Linked DNA regions of Homo sapiens: region 1 is linked to region 2. A link means that fine-mapping ties the variant in region 2 to the expression of a gene that starts in the linked region. Tissue or cell type: sigmoid colon. Region 2 holds a variant in brackets; the other region holds the start of a gene. All regions are shown on one strand. Distances are between the middles of the regions.

Region 1 (8,174 bases), 38 kb after region 2:
CCCAATTTATAGACTGCCAGGAAGCCGGGGCTTAGAGAGCTCTGTTTTTTTCAAAGTCTACTCGGCTAGCCACAGATGGAGATGAGACTGGACCTCAGACAGCCTGGCCAAGGGCCTGTCCCCACTGCACTTCTTCCATGTCCCCTGGCTAGTCTTCAGTAGGGTCCCCAAAGGTCTTTTTGCCTGGGGGCCTGGGGAGGGGGTGCATGACTTCTCTTCTTCTCCTGAGTGCCAGGTTTCCCCAGACCCCACATCCTTCCCCACTGCCCTGCATTCCAGGACCAGGAGGGCTGGGGCAGGGCCAGAAGATGGAGAGGAGCCCTCAGCATTGTGAGATGCTCAGGGGTGAAGGGTGTCCCTGAAAGTCCCTGCAAGCTCTTGATGTGCTTGACCTCATAGCCTGGCCTCCCTCTGCCTTTGGGCTTCTGTCTAAAAGACCCTCACATTCCTGAGAGCCACAGGAAAGCACCTTCCTCAGTAGAATGTCCAACTGCTCTAGTGAGGGGCCTCCTGCAGGGGTGGACAATTGCTGAGGTCGATGTAGGGGAACAGGGGGAGGCCCCCAGCCTGCCCCAACTCACCACTCAGTCAGGGAGGCCCTGACTTCTGCCTGTGTGCCTCCCTCTGCTGTCCGCCAGTGCGCCTCCGTGCCTTTGTCTCTTGTCTCACTGCCTCTTTCTCTGCCTCAGTCAGGCTCTCTCTCGGATTCCTCCTCCTCCTGAGCCCGTTCCTCTCCTCCTCTCCATTCTCATCAGAGAGGAACACTCATCCCTCTCTTCCAGAAACAATGGAGCACCATGCTCCTGTCCGCTCAGCCTTTCGGTTGGTGCATCCTCTTCCCCATCTCACACTCCCAGCTCCTGGCCGGCCTCATCACCCTGTGCTCCACACCTAGGAAAAGTATATCTGACTTGGTCCCCTTATCCCCGAGAAACCACTAAGAGAACCTTCAGGTCTCCCCAGAAGCCGAAGCTGAGGAACTGGGCTTGCCCCAGGGCATCCTCCTGTGAAGCTCCTTGGTCTCCGCCACGGGCTCCAATCCTGTTGCTGGAGCTTATCTCCTCAGTGATTTACCTGCCCCCTGCTTCTGGTGGAACAGTGAGTAACTGCCCAACCAGAAACCTACACACACATATTCAACACAGCGCCTGCAAGCTTCCAGCTCACCTGGACCTGGAGTGATCCCCAAGCATCCTGGGGTCAGGCACAGAAACAGGAACAGCGAGCTCCTGGCTCCAGTGCTGAATGGGGCACAGATGCATTAACTCTCCCAGTCCCATTAACCTTAGCAAGTATTTCTGCTTCCATGAAAAGGGGAAGAGGGAAAATGTCTCTAAGCTCTGGAACCTTTGGCAGTGCTGGGCATGGACTGGGCAGAGTGAGAAGTCTGTCTGAAGACCCTGGGAAAGGGTCTTCACCCCATGGGAAGAAAGGGAAGGCTTGATGTTTGGTCCAGTAAGGCCATTAATGGTCACCAACTGAGCAGACTCTGGGAGGAAATGTCTCAGTCTCTGCAGTGGCTACCAGCAGAGGTAGGGCGACATAAGCACAGAAGACAAATCTTAGAAAACCCTAGAACAACAGTCCTGTGCAGCCACATGCCCCACAGCCCTAGTAACTTAGGGAGTGATGTGCCTCCCATTTCCACACAAACACATCCAGGCATTGCACAGTGCTAGGCCCTACGACATCCGTACCCCAACATTTTCAACAGTGCGTGCTACACAGCCCAAGCTCTAGGCCCCATTGGGCACCCCACCTATGCAGGTGCCCATGCACTGGGCTAGCAACTGTCAGTAAAGGTCCCCTTCCTGTATGTCCAGAGTCCTTCAGCTCCAGCTTCTACAAGAATCCATGCAGCTAGGCCTGGCTGGGGGAGGAAGGGGACAGGGAAGTTGGCCAAGGCTCCCATGTGTGTGCATGTGGGGGTGGTTCTTGACCTTAGCTGCTTGGTACGGGGCTGTCACCTCCTTACCCTGGCACTGTCGGACCTGGTGGCTTCCTTCTCTATTTCCTGCCTCAACTCTCAGCCTCCTTTTTCTGGAAGTTGTGTGCTCTGACTTTGGAGGGATTGGGACCTCAGACCTGAGCCCAGGTGCAGATGGGAGGGTGGTGAACTGGTCGCGCCTCCTTCCTCCTTGCTACACCGAAGGTCCCAAGGGCCCTTTGCCACCCTTGCTACCCCTGGGTCCCTCAGCGCGCCCCGCAGAGCTCGGGCCCCCTCAAGAGAGTTAACTTGGCAGTGCCCAGGAGCCAGAGAGCGATCCAGAGAGCGCTGTTGGGCAGCAGGGGTGGGGAGGTGGGGGACGACTGACCCCTGACTCCTCATCCGGCCACCAGAAACCACCTGCTGAGGGGGCCGGGAACTGACGACTGAGAGCCCGGGCCGATTGTTAGAAGCTGCTGAGAACCAGCTCTTCCCCTAATCCCGGTCGACGAGGGCAGGCTGTGCCGGGTTTTGTTTCGCAGCCCCTCGGCAGCAGCGCCTCCCAGCCCGAGCTCGGTTCTCGGCCCCCTTTCCAGCTGCCCCCAGCGCGCGCAGCGCACACACACACACACACACACACACACACACACACCCCAGCGCGCGCCCGGGAGGACATGGCGTGGGCACCGATGGGGACGCAGAAAGGGGCTCTGTGCGCGGCGGGGCGCCCGCGGGGGCGCGGGGAGCACTGACCTGCGGCGACGAGTCCGGAGCGTCTCCGGTGCGGTCCATCGCGGGCAACGGCCCCTACGCCCCGGCCCCGGCGCCCCTAGACCGCTGCCCTGGGCCGCGTGCGGCTCCCTCCCCGGGGACTGTCGGGCTCCGGGCCCCCGGGGGCCACTTCATAGCCGCGGGGTCCGCGCGCCCGCCCGCCCCGCCCGGCCCCGCCGCCCCGGCCCGGCTCGTTCTGGGCTCAGCGAGGCGGCGGCCGAAGGCTGGGAGCGCGCGGGAGGGAGGGCGCGGGCAGGGAGGCGGGGGGCGGGGGGCGGGGAGGGGGAGCGGGGAGGGGGAGCGGGGAGCGGGCGCGGGGGCGAGAGGGGCGAGGGGGGCGCGCGGCCGGAGCCGAGCCGACCGGGCCGGCGCAGAGTCCCCGAGGTGGCGGCGGATGCGCCGGTGCCGCCGCGGCTCTGCCGGCGCCTCCCGCCCCGCCCCCACCCGCTCTCCGCCCCCGCCCCGCCCCCGCCCCGAGCCCGCGCCAGCGCCGGCGGGACCCGAGCTGCTAATGGTCGGTACCAACCTCGCCAGCCTAGGCGGGGGCGCGAGGAGGGAGGCCGGCGAGGGGACCCCCCCCCGGGATTGGTATCACCTCCCCACCGCCCCCCACCCTCCCCCGGCACCGTCCCCCGCGGAGGCGGCTCCCGCTTCAGGCGGCGGAGCAGGGGTGGCGGGCAGGGGCCGAGCGCACCCCCAGATCTCGGCTCTCGAGAGTTAAAGCTCGGCCCCCGCCTGCACCCCCATTCCACCCCGCCTCCATCCTGGCTGCTCCTGGCGCCCAGCTTGGCAGCCTCTCTCAAAGGGTGATTGTTTCCGGCCGGGCTGCTGCAGGAGGGCGGGGGGCGGCGCTCTGGGACCGAGAGGCCGAGCTGGGAAGCCGGTGGGGGATGCGGCTCCTTCCTTGGCTCCAGGCACCCCGGATGGGAGGTGGCCGGTGGGGGCGGACGGTGCCGTGCCGGGGTACGGGGTCTGCTGCCCCGTGGAAGGGCACCTCGAGCCGCCGCGCGTCAGCCTCACCCCAGCCTCCCCTTCCGGGCCGGTGCACCCGGCGTTCCGGAGAGAGGCCCGGGAGGCCTGCGTGGGCGGACGGGCGCGGGGAGGCCGGGGGCAGCGGGATCTCCAGGAGTTTCCCGGGCCTCTGCCGCGGTGTGTTGGTCGGCGGGGGACGGAGGCCAGTGAGTGGGCGCGCACTTGGACGTATGTGGGTGCACTGGTAGGGTGCCTCTGTGGAGCTGTATATTCCAGATACTCCTTCAGCTTGTCGGAGACTTTGAAGCCATCCTTGCACTCGTTTTAGAGGTTGGCATCTCCCGGTGCTCTTGGACACCTGTATTCGGGCCACACCCGCTGTGTCCTCTTCACAGCCCCAGGAGAAGGCCACCTCCCATGGCGGGGTTCGCGGCGGGACCAGGGACTGTCGGTACTTTCTCTAGGGTCTCCCTCCTTCCCGGGAAACCAGTTCCAGCCCCACTGCTAGGCACTGCTTAACCAGAGCTGTGCCCCCGTGCTATGGGCTGGGGCTGAGGACCACGGGCCTCTTTTCCATCAGCTTTCCTGCCCTGTTAGGACCAAGCCGGGCCCTGCTCTTCCCACTGAGGATGTGCAGGTGGGGAGGGGGCAGAGACTCCAGAATCAGCCCCTTTGGTCAAGATTTTGAGGGGAGGAAGGCACCTCACCGTCCGTATCATGCCACAGACATGTGAAAGTGTCCTTAGTGACTATCTCTAGGGATAACTGCTCCTCCTTGTCGTGCGCTCTTTCATTGTTGTGCTTAACAGCCCCCTTTGCCGGCAAGAAACTTCCTCTGAATCTAACCTCAGTACCTCCTGCTGCGGTACAGGAGCATTTCCCCCTTCTCTTAATGAGTGGAATCCCAGCCAGCCTTGCTCCGCCTTCTTCTGCCCCTACTACAACCCTCTCTTTTAGACTCTGCTAAGAGACCTTTCCTAAGTCGGTGTTCTCTGGTATTTTCCTAGTCTCCATACTCTGCTTCTCCTTAGACTCCACACCAGCTGAAGGGAGGGGAAGGGCAGGTGCAGAAGCAGGATGGGCGGGGGTACCAGAGAGCACCAAGGAGGGGCCAGGCCGTCCAGGAGGGCACATTGCCTCCCTCCTCTGCTAAGCCAGCCAGCCGCAGTCACACAATCACCAAATGGGAGGACAGAAATGACCGTGAAGACTGTCTCGTTCCAGACCCTCATTTTACCAACAGGGAAACACACCCATGAGGGGTGATCTCAAGAGAGCTCAGGGACATGGCGACGAGGAGGCCTGGGTTTCAGGCCGATTCTGAAGGCACTAGCAAAAGACTTCCCCTCAGGGCTGGTTTCAGTAATGAAACAGAGGGTTGGACTAAGTGGGCTGTGGTCCGACTTGTCCTGCTGGGCTGTGGCTCGGAGATGCTGTCTGCAGGGGTTCTCGGCTTTACCTCAGCATTCTGGCAGGAACAATTGTGATAATAAAGCCGCTTTCAAGGGACCTGTCTTGCATCTTAGTTCCAGGCTCTGTTTACAGAATTTTTAGTATTAATTTTTAGAGCCAATTTAAAACAATAATAGGAGATTAAAATTAGCATGATAAGGCTCAGTGAAGAGACAACAGCCTGCCATTCGTTTTGGTGGGAAGTTTTGGCAACATCCCAAGTGTATGGACACACACAAATGTACTGACATCTACGCAGGCACAAAACATGCTCATAGAGGCAGCTACACATGCAGATTCACCCACATGAACACACACACACACTCTGAAATACATCATGTGCACATGTAAACGCTTGCACACGGATGTACCTGAAGCACCTGCACCCACACAGACACACGTGTACACACACCATCCCCCGGGTCAGCCACACTCCCACCCCTGTCTTCCTGCTTGGCCTCTGCAGGACTGTGGAAATCCTTCCCTCCCATGTCTGGACTTGGTGCATCCTCACAGCTTGACCCTTGCTCCAAACATCTGGAGCACCTCTAAGGTCTCCCTGAATGATTGATCTTCCCCTCCCCCTGCCTTCCCTGCCAGTAGTGAGCCCCTCTTCTCAGAGGCCCCCAAAGCCTAGCACCAGCATGTTTAGTATGCAAAGCCCGGGTTTGTCCTCTGGGACAAACCGTTATGTGTTTATTGTGTAGTTAAGCAGGACGGGAGCCCTGCCCCCGCTCTGATCCTGGCCCACTTCCCATAATCTGAATCCCAGAAGAGTCCTGTAAAACCGTCATCTGCAATGCAAAACCTGCAAAACATCTGGGATGGTCTGTAGGTTTTCTCCAAATCACCTGTGCCCTAATTTAATATGAATAACAATTAGTTTACTCTTATCAGTTAATTGTTCCCCTCGTGGGTTCTGTCTGCCCTGGCCTCTCTTTCAGCAGGAGTTTTGGTCTGCTCCAGACTCCTAATGATACTGCCTTTTCAGCCGTGCCGTCCTTCTTAGCTACCACCCAAGAGAGGCAACGCAGCTGCGCTGCTTGCCGCCCTGGCCTGTGGGGCCCAGGCCCTCACCCCACCCGTCTTAGCCAGTCTGATTGTTGGGGGCCATCCAATCTCCCCTTGCCTTCACCAGGAATCTATAGCAGTGATTTTGCTGATGTGAGTGGAAAGGTCCCAGTGGGATTCTTCAGTGAGGAATCCCACCCCACAAGGTGCCCGTCCTCTCCCGTCATTGCCCTGGCAAGGGTGACAGCACATGCACATGCATGGGCACACCCAGATGCTGCCAGAGAGCAGGGGGAGTGAGAGGAGGAAGAGCTGCCCTCTGCCTCGGCAGGCAGGGTGAGCTCCCCAGGGACCCAGCCATGCTATCAGGCGTGTCTGAACTGTTCCCACAGTGGCTCCTGGACGGATGTGTGTGGATGTGCTGTTTTGGGTGGTGGAGTTCATGGCCCAGATACAGAAAGAGGAGGAGACCTTTTAACTCTTCCCTTTCATTAGGTTTCTGGTCTGAGCTTTGGATCTTGAACACCCTTGTTTGTCCATAAAAAATTGAAAATGGTCATGTGGTCAACAGGTTTCCCTCTGCCCTCCTCTCTTCTCAGAAGCCAGGCCGGCATCTTTCCTGAGCTGGTGCAAAAAGGCTGACTCCTGCTTCTCTCCAGTCTCTGCCTCCAGGGAAAGGGTGCAGTTACATGGCTTTAGAACACTTCAGTCATGTCATTTTGTTTTGCCTTCTTTCCTCTGTGGCTGAGGGAGGGATGAGAGGTGATAGGAGCAGAGCCCTCAGACTTAGGGGAGCATCTCTGAGGCTAACCTGGGACCGTTCTTTGTCCTCTTGCAGAAGTGAAAATAACCCAGATTGCCTTTTGACCTCCCCACTATCCCCTAACTACTCTGCAGAGCCCACACCTCCAAAGTCTCACTGAAGCCTTTCCCAACCTGAGCTCTGTGGCTTGTGCTGTCTCCTATAGCCCTCCCGACCCTCAGGCACCTCTGGCAGTGAACTGCTCTTCCCCTCAGTCCCATAGCACTTTATCCGGACACATCTGGAGGCTCTTACCCATCTGTGCATGCTTTCCTGTGTTCAGCTAATATTTACTGAGCTCCAGTCATATGCCAGGCACTGTGCTGGGCACCAGAGACATGCAGTAAACAACAGCAATTAGGAGTGTTAACTTCAATTAGGCCATTTATATGTATGCACCAGGTTAGGTTCCAAGTCTTCATGCACGTTAGCTAATTTCATATGTAAGGTGTTATTTACAAGGTACTGTTTGTGACAAGTTTCGATTATAGTTTCCATTTATAGGTCAGGAATCTGGGGCGTAGTATTTAGGTAATTTAATTAAGGTCACATGCCTAGTAAGTGACATAGCCAGCATTTGAGGCAGGCAGCCTAGTTCCAGGACTCAGGCTCATCGTCAGAGCACAACTCAGGGATTATATGCTAGTGGTCCATAGATGGGCAAATGCACAGAACAAACAGAGGTGGAGGAGATACAGGAAGGGAAGAAATAGGGTCAAGAGCTGGAGAGAGTCCTGGGAGGGTAGGATCAGGGAGAGGCTCTTTGAAGAGGCCATGTTTGAGCCAAAACCCGGGGGAATATTGGCCCAGCAAGGAGGACAGCGATAGGCGACCTGAGGGGTTTGCGGGAGGCTTGGTGTGCTTGAGGAACACGTGCAGCAGGTGAGGCTGGAGAGTGGAGAGAGAGGAGAGAGCCATGGGGAGCGGAAAGGACACTCTCTGCTTGGAGTTTGAGGATTCATGTGCGTGAGTGACCTCCTGCACTAGCGTCTTCCAGAGAGTGGCTGTTCAATAAATATGATGGATGGAGTCGTCTAATTTCCTGCCCAAACTCCCCTCCGTGGCTTGGGTGATGGGCAGACATCCTAGACCTTTGGGTATTAGTAGAGCATCTGCAGAAAGGACTCCTTACCCTTTCCTTTTGGGATTTGGAAGAAAGAAAAAAGGTGCTAGGAGTCCTGCCACATGGATGTGCTGATTCCATTTATTCATTCATCAAAATTCTGAGCAGCTCCGATG
Region 2 (8,174 bases):
CTTCCACCCCATGTGCCAGCCCCCAGGCAGAGTCTGTCTGTGACCCCACTCCTCCTGAGCCTGCCCACCCCTCCATCTCTTCTGTACGCAGCCAATCAAGTCTGAAAAGCCCATCAACATGGAGAACCTGCCAGTCAATGGGGGAAATGGACAGTCCTTCGGGTACATTCTCTATGAGACCAGCATCACCTCGTCTGGCATCCTCAGTGGCCACGTGCATGATCGGGGGCAGGTAGGAGCTTCTCTTCTAAATTCCTGTGACCTTCTGGTGAGCAGCTCTGCAATAGGCGTCTCATGCCCTCCCCTCAGAATCAGCTCTTACCAGTGTGTGACAATGGCCCTTCTGAGTCAGCTCTGTGAGCCTTCAGGGGGCATTCATGTCTGCTCTGCCCACTGGCCCCTCGTCTGCCTACAGGCACGCGTGCTGCCCTTCTTGGCCTGGAGGAGGTCCCGCTTACCCTCCTCCTGTTGGTCATGGATGTTCCTGCCTGTTCCCTTTGGCAGGTGTTTGTGAACACAGTATCCATAGGATTCTTGGACTACAAGACAACGAAGATTGCTGTCCCCCTGATCCAGGTTCGTTGTTTTTGGGAGCTGGGTGATGGCTAGCCCCCGCTGCTTCGAGGAAGTCTGGGGGCAGTCACTGAGGAAAACCTGGGAGACCCGTGGCTCCTTACCCACAAGCTGTAGGTGGAGAGGGCGAGTGTGGCTTTCTGCCCAGCTGGGATGTACACTCCCATCCCCAGAGCGTAGGGAAGAACTGGGGTCCACAAGCAAATTCTGAGGGGCAGCTGTGGCCTTCTGACAGTCATCGTTAGCCCCGTGTTCCCGGCAGGGTTACACCGTGCTGAGGATCTTGGTGGAGAATCGTGGGCGAGTCAACTATGGGGAGAATATTGATGACCAGCGCAAAGGTGGGTCCCAGAATGTGTCAAAAGAAGAGTGGCCATGCTGGACACACAGGTGGCTATTGCTTCTCTATGCTAGCAGGCCACCAGGCCATGGAGGCCTCTTGCAGGGAGGTGGAGGCTGGGTTGTCCCATACATGAGGCCAGTTCTGAGTGGGCCAGAGAAACTCCGCTGGGCTGTGGCCCCTGTCCTGTTAGCACTGCACGCGTGCATCGTCTGCGTGCTCGTGATAAACACTGTGAACACTGAGCTGGCCTCTTGTCTCCCCTGGGCTGCAGTCGGTTTCTGCAAGGATGTCTGCTTGGGGGGGCGGCAGTGAGGAGCAATGAATGTGATTTCCAGGAATCCAAGGAAAGGCACAAGACCCCTGCCTTCTTGGGCCTCCACACTGAAGTTCTCTTCTTGATCCATCTTGGGAAAGCTTATCTCAGATGTTGGGGGAGGAGGATGCGGGACATACAGCAAACAAAACACCTGTTGGTAGCGTACCCCTCTGGGAATAGGCCGCCAATTTGCTTTATGTTTCCTGGCCTACTAAATCTTTTATGCTTTAATTTAGCCCTTCCTTTTTTTTTTTGAGACGGAGTCTCGCTCTTTCACCCAGGCCAGACTGCAGTGGTGCAATCTCGGCTCACTGCATGCTCCACCTCCCGGGTTCATGCCATTCTCCTGCCTCAGCCTCCCGAGTAGCTGGGACTACAGGCGCCCGCCACCGTGCCCAAATTTAGCCCTTCCTTTTTAAAAAAAATCTAGCTAAATGTGGGTGGTTTCAGGTAAGTTATAAAAAAAGAACTCAGAACAAAATGAATGCGACTGTGGTGAGCAGCACCGGTGACCTCCCAGCTCTCTCACGGTGTCTGCGTTTGTGACGGAGGAAACTTGAAGAGCTCTTATTGGTCCACATTTCCTCCGAGAGCCGTCTGGTGGCCTGCCAGGAAAGCCACGTGGCCCAGACACTGGGGCCTGGATCCTGGGGATCAGGGCCCTTCTAGATGGGCCTCAGAGCGGCATCTAGCACCACCCAGGCCCACACTCCTTTACCCTAGACAGCTCCCTCTCTGGGCCTGTCCTCACTTCTGTTGTTCTCCTGGGAGTTGGAAGGAGCACCAGCCTGACCATTGTTCCTAACTTTGCTTCCCTGAGCCCTTGTTGAGGGTCCCCTGGGCCCACACTGTGGAGTCCTGTCCTCTGGATCACAGTTCAATGTTTATAAGTCACAGACCTCCCTTGAGAAATGCGCGTGCCCACATAGACCCGCACCTGCCATTTCGGAGTCTGTAGGCCCTGCAAAGCCTCTCCACAGTCCTCGGCCTCCAAATTCCCAAGCTAGCCACTCAGCAGCTCTGTAATCTGAGACTGGCAGGGCTGGCCCGGCCCCGGGACACTGATGAGTGGCTCCTCAAGAGGACACATCTCTTCCCTGTTGGATGCCCGAGGGAGGGTGCCATCTGCTCACAGTCCAAACACTCCTAATGCACAGCTTTAATCCTAGGTGGCAGAGATGATTCTGGCTGAGTTATTAGGTCTGTGTAGCTTGGGCCCCACTGAAACTGGCCCTGCAGCTAGGCCAGAACCCTCTCGGTCATCTGGAACTTCCTTCAGAGAGAGGCCAGAGGTTGTTCTCGCCCTGTAACACCTCAGCTCTATATCCTTCCCATGGCAAATCTTAGGGTCTTCCTCCTTCCCGTCCCCCACAGAATTGCTAGGGAGCTTTGCTTGCAAGCGAACGGCTTCCCAGGGAGCGTACACTTCAGTACCCCTCACCCCAGCTTCTCAGGGAGCGTACACTTCAGCACCCCTCACCCCAGCTTCCCAGGGCTTCCCCTCGTGGCCCCGGCCCAGCTGACTCGGCCCCTGCCTTTGGGCTACCCACGTGTCCTGCCTCCCTCCCACAGGCTTAATTGGAAATCTCTATCTGAATGATTCACCCCTGAAAAACTTCAGAATCTATAGCCTGGATATGAAGAAGAGCTTCTTTCAGAGGTGGGTCCCTGCCCAGCACCAGCCCTTGCACTCACAGGTATAGTGCTGTGTGGTGGGGCCCAGGGGTCCCTGGTGCACCGTGGCCTGGCCCGCACCCAGGTGTGAACGCCTCCAGGGGCCAGATCGGCTGGCCGAGGTGAGGGGTGGCACCCGCACTAGAAGCCGCATTTGCAGACTAGGAATTCCCAGCATCCTACCGTGCTGCCATTCTGTGTCCTGGTTAAGAGGCGGGGGGCCTTGGATGGGGAAACGGTGTCAGGGCCTTTTATTTTGCTTTATTGTGCTGGTGGATTGAGAAGGGCCTCCTCCCTCTCCTTCTCTGTGTTCTGTCCTTAGGTTCGGCCTGGACAAATGGAGTTCCCTCCCAGAAACACCCACATTACCTGCTTTCTTCTTGGGTAGCTTGTCCATCAGCTCCACCCCTTGTGACACCTTTCTGAAGCTGGAGGTTGGTAACGCCCTTTTCCCTGCCAGTTTCTCCCACCTGCCTCCCGCCTTGGAGGGCTCTGAGCCAAAGCCACGAGCTTGGCGAGAGTCGTTGGTGGCTTCTGTGCCCAGAGGGTCTGAGAGGGCCGCTGGGGCCTCCCTGGGCCAGAGGAGTGGGTTCCCAGCAGAAGAA[A/C]CACCTCATGCACTAGGGGGACAGGAAATAGAGCATCCCACCTGCCCACCCTCATGGCTGTCCAGACACAGCTCGCTTTGGTCTCCTGGACCTGAGAGAAGCACGCATGCATGTCTCCCTCCACTTTTGCTGTGGCTCTCGTGGTAGATGAACACCCTTCCCCTCTGTTTCAAGGGCTGGGAGAAGGGGGTTGTATTCATCAATGGCCAGAACCTTGGACGTTACTGGAACATTGGACCCCAGAAGACGCTTTACCTCCCAGGTCCCTGGTTGAGCAGCGGAATCAACCAGGTGGGAGCTTCCAGCCCCTTCCTGTTCCCCATGACGCCCTGCCCACCTGCCGTCCCAGGGAGCCTTCGGTCAGGGTGGAGGGGCGTGTCAGCGGGTTCTTCCTCCCTCCTCCTCGCTGCAGACGAGTTGTTGGTCCCTGTCCCTTCCAGCCTGGTTCCCAAACCCTTTCCTTCTGACCCTGCCACCTCTCAGCACCTCCCCTGGCTCCAGGACAGACGTCAGCTGCCCTCCCAGCCGGGCCCTCTCTCCACAGGTCATCGTTTTTGAGGAGACGATGGCGGGCCCTGCATTACAGTTCACGGAAACCCCCCACCTGGGCAGGAACCAGTACATTAAGTGAGCGGTGGCACCCCCTCCTGCTGGTGCCAGTGGGAGACTGCCGCCTCCTCTTGACCTGAAGCCTGGTGGCTGCTGCCCCACCCCTCACTGCAAAAGCATCTCCTTAAGTAGCAACCTCAGGGACTGGGGGCTACAGTCTGCCCCTGTCTCAGCTCAAAACCCTAAGCCTGCAGGGAAAGGTGGGATGGCTCTGGGCCTGGCTTTGTTGATGATGGCTTTCCTACAGCCCTGCTCTTGTGCCGAGGCTGTCGGGCTGTCTCTAGGGTGGGAGCAGCTAATCAGATCGCCCAGCCTTTGGCCCTCAGAAAAAGTGCTGAAACGTGCCCTTGCACTGGACGTCACAGCCCTGCGAGCATCTGCTGGACTCAGGCGTGCTCTTTGCTGGTTCCTGGGAGGCTTGGCCACATCCCTCATGGCCCCATTTTATCCCCGAAATCCTGGGTGTGTCACCAGTGTAGAGGGTGGGGAAGGGGTGTCTCACCTGAGCTGACTTTGTTCTTCCTTCACAACCTTCTGAGCCTTCTTTGGGATTCTGGAAGGAACTCGGCGTGAGAAACATGTGACTTCCCCTTTCCCTTCCCACTCGCTGCTTCCCACAGGGTGACAGGCTGGGCTGGAGAAACAGAAATCCTCACCCTGCGTCTTCCCAAGTTAGCAGGTGTCTCTGGTGTTCAGTGAGGAGGACATGTGAGTCCTGGCAGAAGCCATGGCCCATGTCTGCACATCCAGGGAGGAGGACAGAAGGCCCAGCTCACATGTGAGTCCTGGCAGAAGCCATGGCCCATGTCTGCACATCCAGGGAGGAGGACAGAAGGCCCAGCTCACATGTGAGTCCTGGCAGAAGCCATGGCCCATGTCTGCACATCCAGGGAGGAGGACAGAAGGCCCAGCTCACATGTGAGTCCTGGCAGAAGCCATGGCCCATGTCTGCACATCCAGGGAGGAGGACAGAAGGCCCAGCTCACATGTGAGTCCTGGCAGAAGCCATGGCCCATGTCTGCACATCCAGGGAGGAGGACAGAAGGCCCAGCTCACATGTGAGTCCTGGCAGAAGCCATGGCCCATGTCTGCACATCCAGGGAGGAGGACAGAAGGCCCAGCTCAGTGGCCCCCGCCCCCCACCCCCCACGCCCGAACAGCAGGGGCAGAGCAGCCCTCCTTCGAAGTGTGTCCAAGTCCGCATTTGAGCCTTGTTCTGGGGCCCAGCCCAACACCTGGCTTGGGCTCACTGTCCTGAGTTGCAGTAAAGCTATAACCTTGAATCACACCCCCTCTGGTGATAGTCTCTGGTCATGTGTGCCACTCTTGCCAGAAGGGAAGGCTGTCTGAGAGCTTGGTTTTCTTGGTCAGGTTCCCATTGGGCCCCACTTGCCGCCTGGGGGTCCAGATGGGGACCGTCCCTGGGGTGGGTGGGCCATGATCCTGGCCTCATATTCCCCTCCTGACCCCGACTTCCCTTCAAATGTCTCTGGATTGGAAGTGCCCTGGAGAGGACAGTTCAAATGCAAATTCATTCTCATGCTGGTGGGCGGGGGTAAGAATCTGCCAGGCAGTCAAGGGCGCTCCATATGAGTTAACTGCGGGGTTGAGTTTTGCTTCACAAACTACATCTGGCATCTACTGCCAAAACCAAATTATCTCCAGTAAGAGTCAGAAAGTCAAGTAGCACACACATCCCCGGCACAGCGAGAGCTCTGGGAGCCCCGTGAAGGTGGGCTGGGGGATGGTGAGCCGTGGAGCTCACTGAGGCCAGCAGGCTTGCTGCCCGTGTGTGGCTGCCCAGGGGGAGTGCAGGGGACATTCGTGGTGTGCAGCCCAGCAGCTGAGCCGGGTCAAGGGCTTATTAAATGGAGCTTATTAAAGGAAAGCTTGTGGACAGTGGCTTGGGAACAACATGGGGCAGAGTCCCTGGTTTTGCCCAAACTCACCAGTTCTTCTGGAACTGCCTCGGAACGACAAGCATGGGGCTAAGATGTGGATGAGACTCGGGCTACTTGGGTGTGGCCTGAGCCACCTGCAGGGTCTTCTGCCCCGCTTTACCTGAGTGTGTGCTTCTGCAGAGCTGTGTATGAGCTGGTTCCGTCAGAAAGTGATGGAATGGAAGGGAACCTTCCTGCAAATCCTCCTGTAAGGTGGAGAAGCCCCTTGGATCACACTTCCACGCAGACCTGAGCAGGACACACTGTGGTTTCCTAAGGTGAGGTCTTCCTACACCAGCTTCTTATTCTCACCCTTATTTTCTGCCAGTTAATTGCTCAGCTTCTCTATCAAAGTACCTCTTGGCAGAGCTTATTCTCCAGCGTTGACTAAAGATGTTTCCATTATCTTCCACACGGTATGGCCTCATCTAGGTCTCTTTGGAGAATCCCTCTTCATATCCAGCCTCTGAATGCTGGGGGTCTCTGGCCCACTCCTTGGGCTGTTTCTTTCCTCTGTCCACACTCACTGCATAGGGTCTCACCCGTGCACCTGTGGTTTGTAAACAGGTTGGACACCCGCGCCCGCCGATGCTGGGCTGCACCTGAGCTCCAGGTGTGTGGGGGCGCATTTTCTTCTGCATGTGTCTAACAGGCACCTGACACAGAGCTCCATTTCCCCACATTACCCCTCCTGCACGCAGCCCTGTATCTGGAAATGGCAGTGCTGTTCTGTGTCTCGGGCTATTTTGGACCCCTCTCTTTATCTCCCACATCCAATCCAGCAGCAGATCCTCCTGGCTCTGCCTCCTAAACTTGGCCAAAATTTGACTGCTTCTCTCTGCCCCAACCCCATGCCCCCACTCAGCCCACTGCATCTTGGCCTGGATGATTCCAGGAGCCACGTCTCCACCTGCCCTTGCCCTCTCCATTTATCCTCCGTGGAGGAGCAGGGCAGTTCTTCTTAGAGATGGATAGATTATGTTAGTCCTCCGTACTGGACCCCCTATTGCCTTCTGGTTTCACCCGGTGCCTGGGGACTCCCTTCTCCCACGCCCACCACATCCCTCACTGCTGTTGCCCCCAGCAGCCCCCGCCCCGTCAGTTGAGCCCGATGGCCTTCCTGCTGATCTGTAAGCAGGCTGAGCAACGCTTGTTCCGCCTGGTGGAGAGTTCGTTCTTCTTGGGCCCGGGGAGCTGCATGTCAGGGTGTTGCTGCTTCGCTCAAGGGTCACTTATCACGGAGGCCTCTGTGGTCACCCTACAGAGCACTGACCCTCTCCACTGCTACCTCTGTCTCCCCGACTCACCCTCATCCTCCATACAACAGATTGCATCTGAAATAATATGCATTCGTTATTGCCTGTCTCCTCTCGTCAGTGGGTCAGTTCTTTGAAAATGAGAGCCTTGTTTTCTCACTGCTGTGTGTCGGCTCCTAGAATGATGCCTGTTCATAACAGGCACCTGATACATACTTGTTGGGTAGCTAAATTAATAAATGAGAACAAAATAAGGCAGGGCTGAAGAGGATTAGGACTGTTAAAAACTGTATTTGACTTTTAATTTTGAAAGCAAATTAAATACAGTTAAATTAAAACAGACCAGATGCAGCTGCCTGGGTGCCACCCTCACCCCAGCCTCTGTTCTTAGAACTCCTAGCCCCTGGCCTCACTCCTGTGTGGTGGGGCTTGCCAGCGAGGGAGCAGGGAACAGACTGGGTTTGGAAAACAGTGGTCATCATGGACCCATTTCTGATTTATAACAAACTCATTCCCAATAAAGATGAAGGCTGCAGTCCACCAGGGTTATAATTATAAATAAATATACATGCAGCTAAAAGAGGATATTAGGTGAAAACAACTGACCTAGCATCTGCCCAAAGAAGTCCCCATTTTGTTGTTCATTATCAAAGTCCTGAAAATGAACCCTAGGTTTTTGGCTAAGAAGGTGGCCTCAGACCAGCCAAGCTGACCTTGGCACTTGGCTGGCTTCTGTGAGGCAGTAGAGTGCCCACACATAAGCTCACCACCTGTGCCCACCTCCTCCCTTCTCTCCCATGCCACCCCACTTGCTTCCAAGGGCTTGGTTTCCAAAGTGACATCCAGGGTGTAAGAGGT

The links. PIP is the estimated chance that this variant, and not a neighbour inherited with it, causes the effect.
Region 1: B3GAT1 starts here. The variant in region 2 is fine-mapped to the expression of B3GAT1 in sigmoid colon (GTEx, PIP above 0.99).

What each region holds. Positions count from the first base shown.
Region 1 is chr11:134,409,127-134,417,300 of GRCh38, forward strand. It overlaps B3GAT1 (beta-1,3-glucuronyltransferase 1), which reads right to left and starts at 3,116. Exons shown (of 6, transcript NM_054025.3): 1 at 2,681-3,116. RefSeq lists an enhancer at 1,705-2,264.
Region 2 is chr11:134,370,917-134,379,090 of GRCh38, forward strand. It overlaps GLB1L2 (galactosidase beta 1 like 2), which reads left to right. Exons shown (of 19, transcript NM_001370461.1): 13 at 92-232; 14 at 505-576; 15 at 836-914; 16 at 2,805-2,892; 17 at 3,229-3,340; 18 at 3,686-3,802; 19 at 4,056-5,408. The coding sequence ends at 4,142. It overlaps B3GAT1 (beta-1,3-glucuronyltransferase 1), which reads right to left. Exons shown (of 6, transcript NM_054025.3): 6 at 7,592-8,174. It overlaps LOC124902798 (a long non-coding RNA gene), which reads left to right and starts at 5,880. Exons shown (of 2, transcript XR_007062961.1): 1 at 5,880-6,338; 2 at 7,148-7,425. RefSeq lists an enhancer at 5,545-6,444. The variant A/C (reference allele first, on the strand shown) is at 3,512.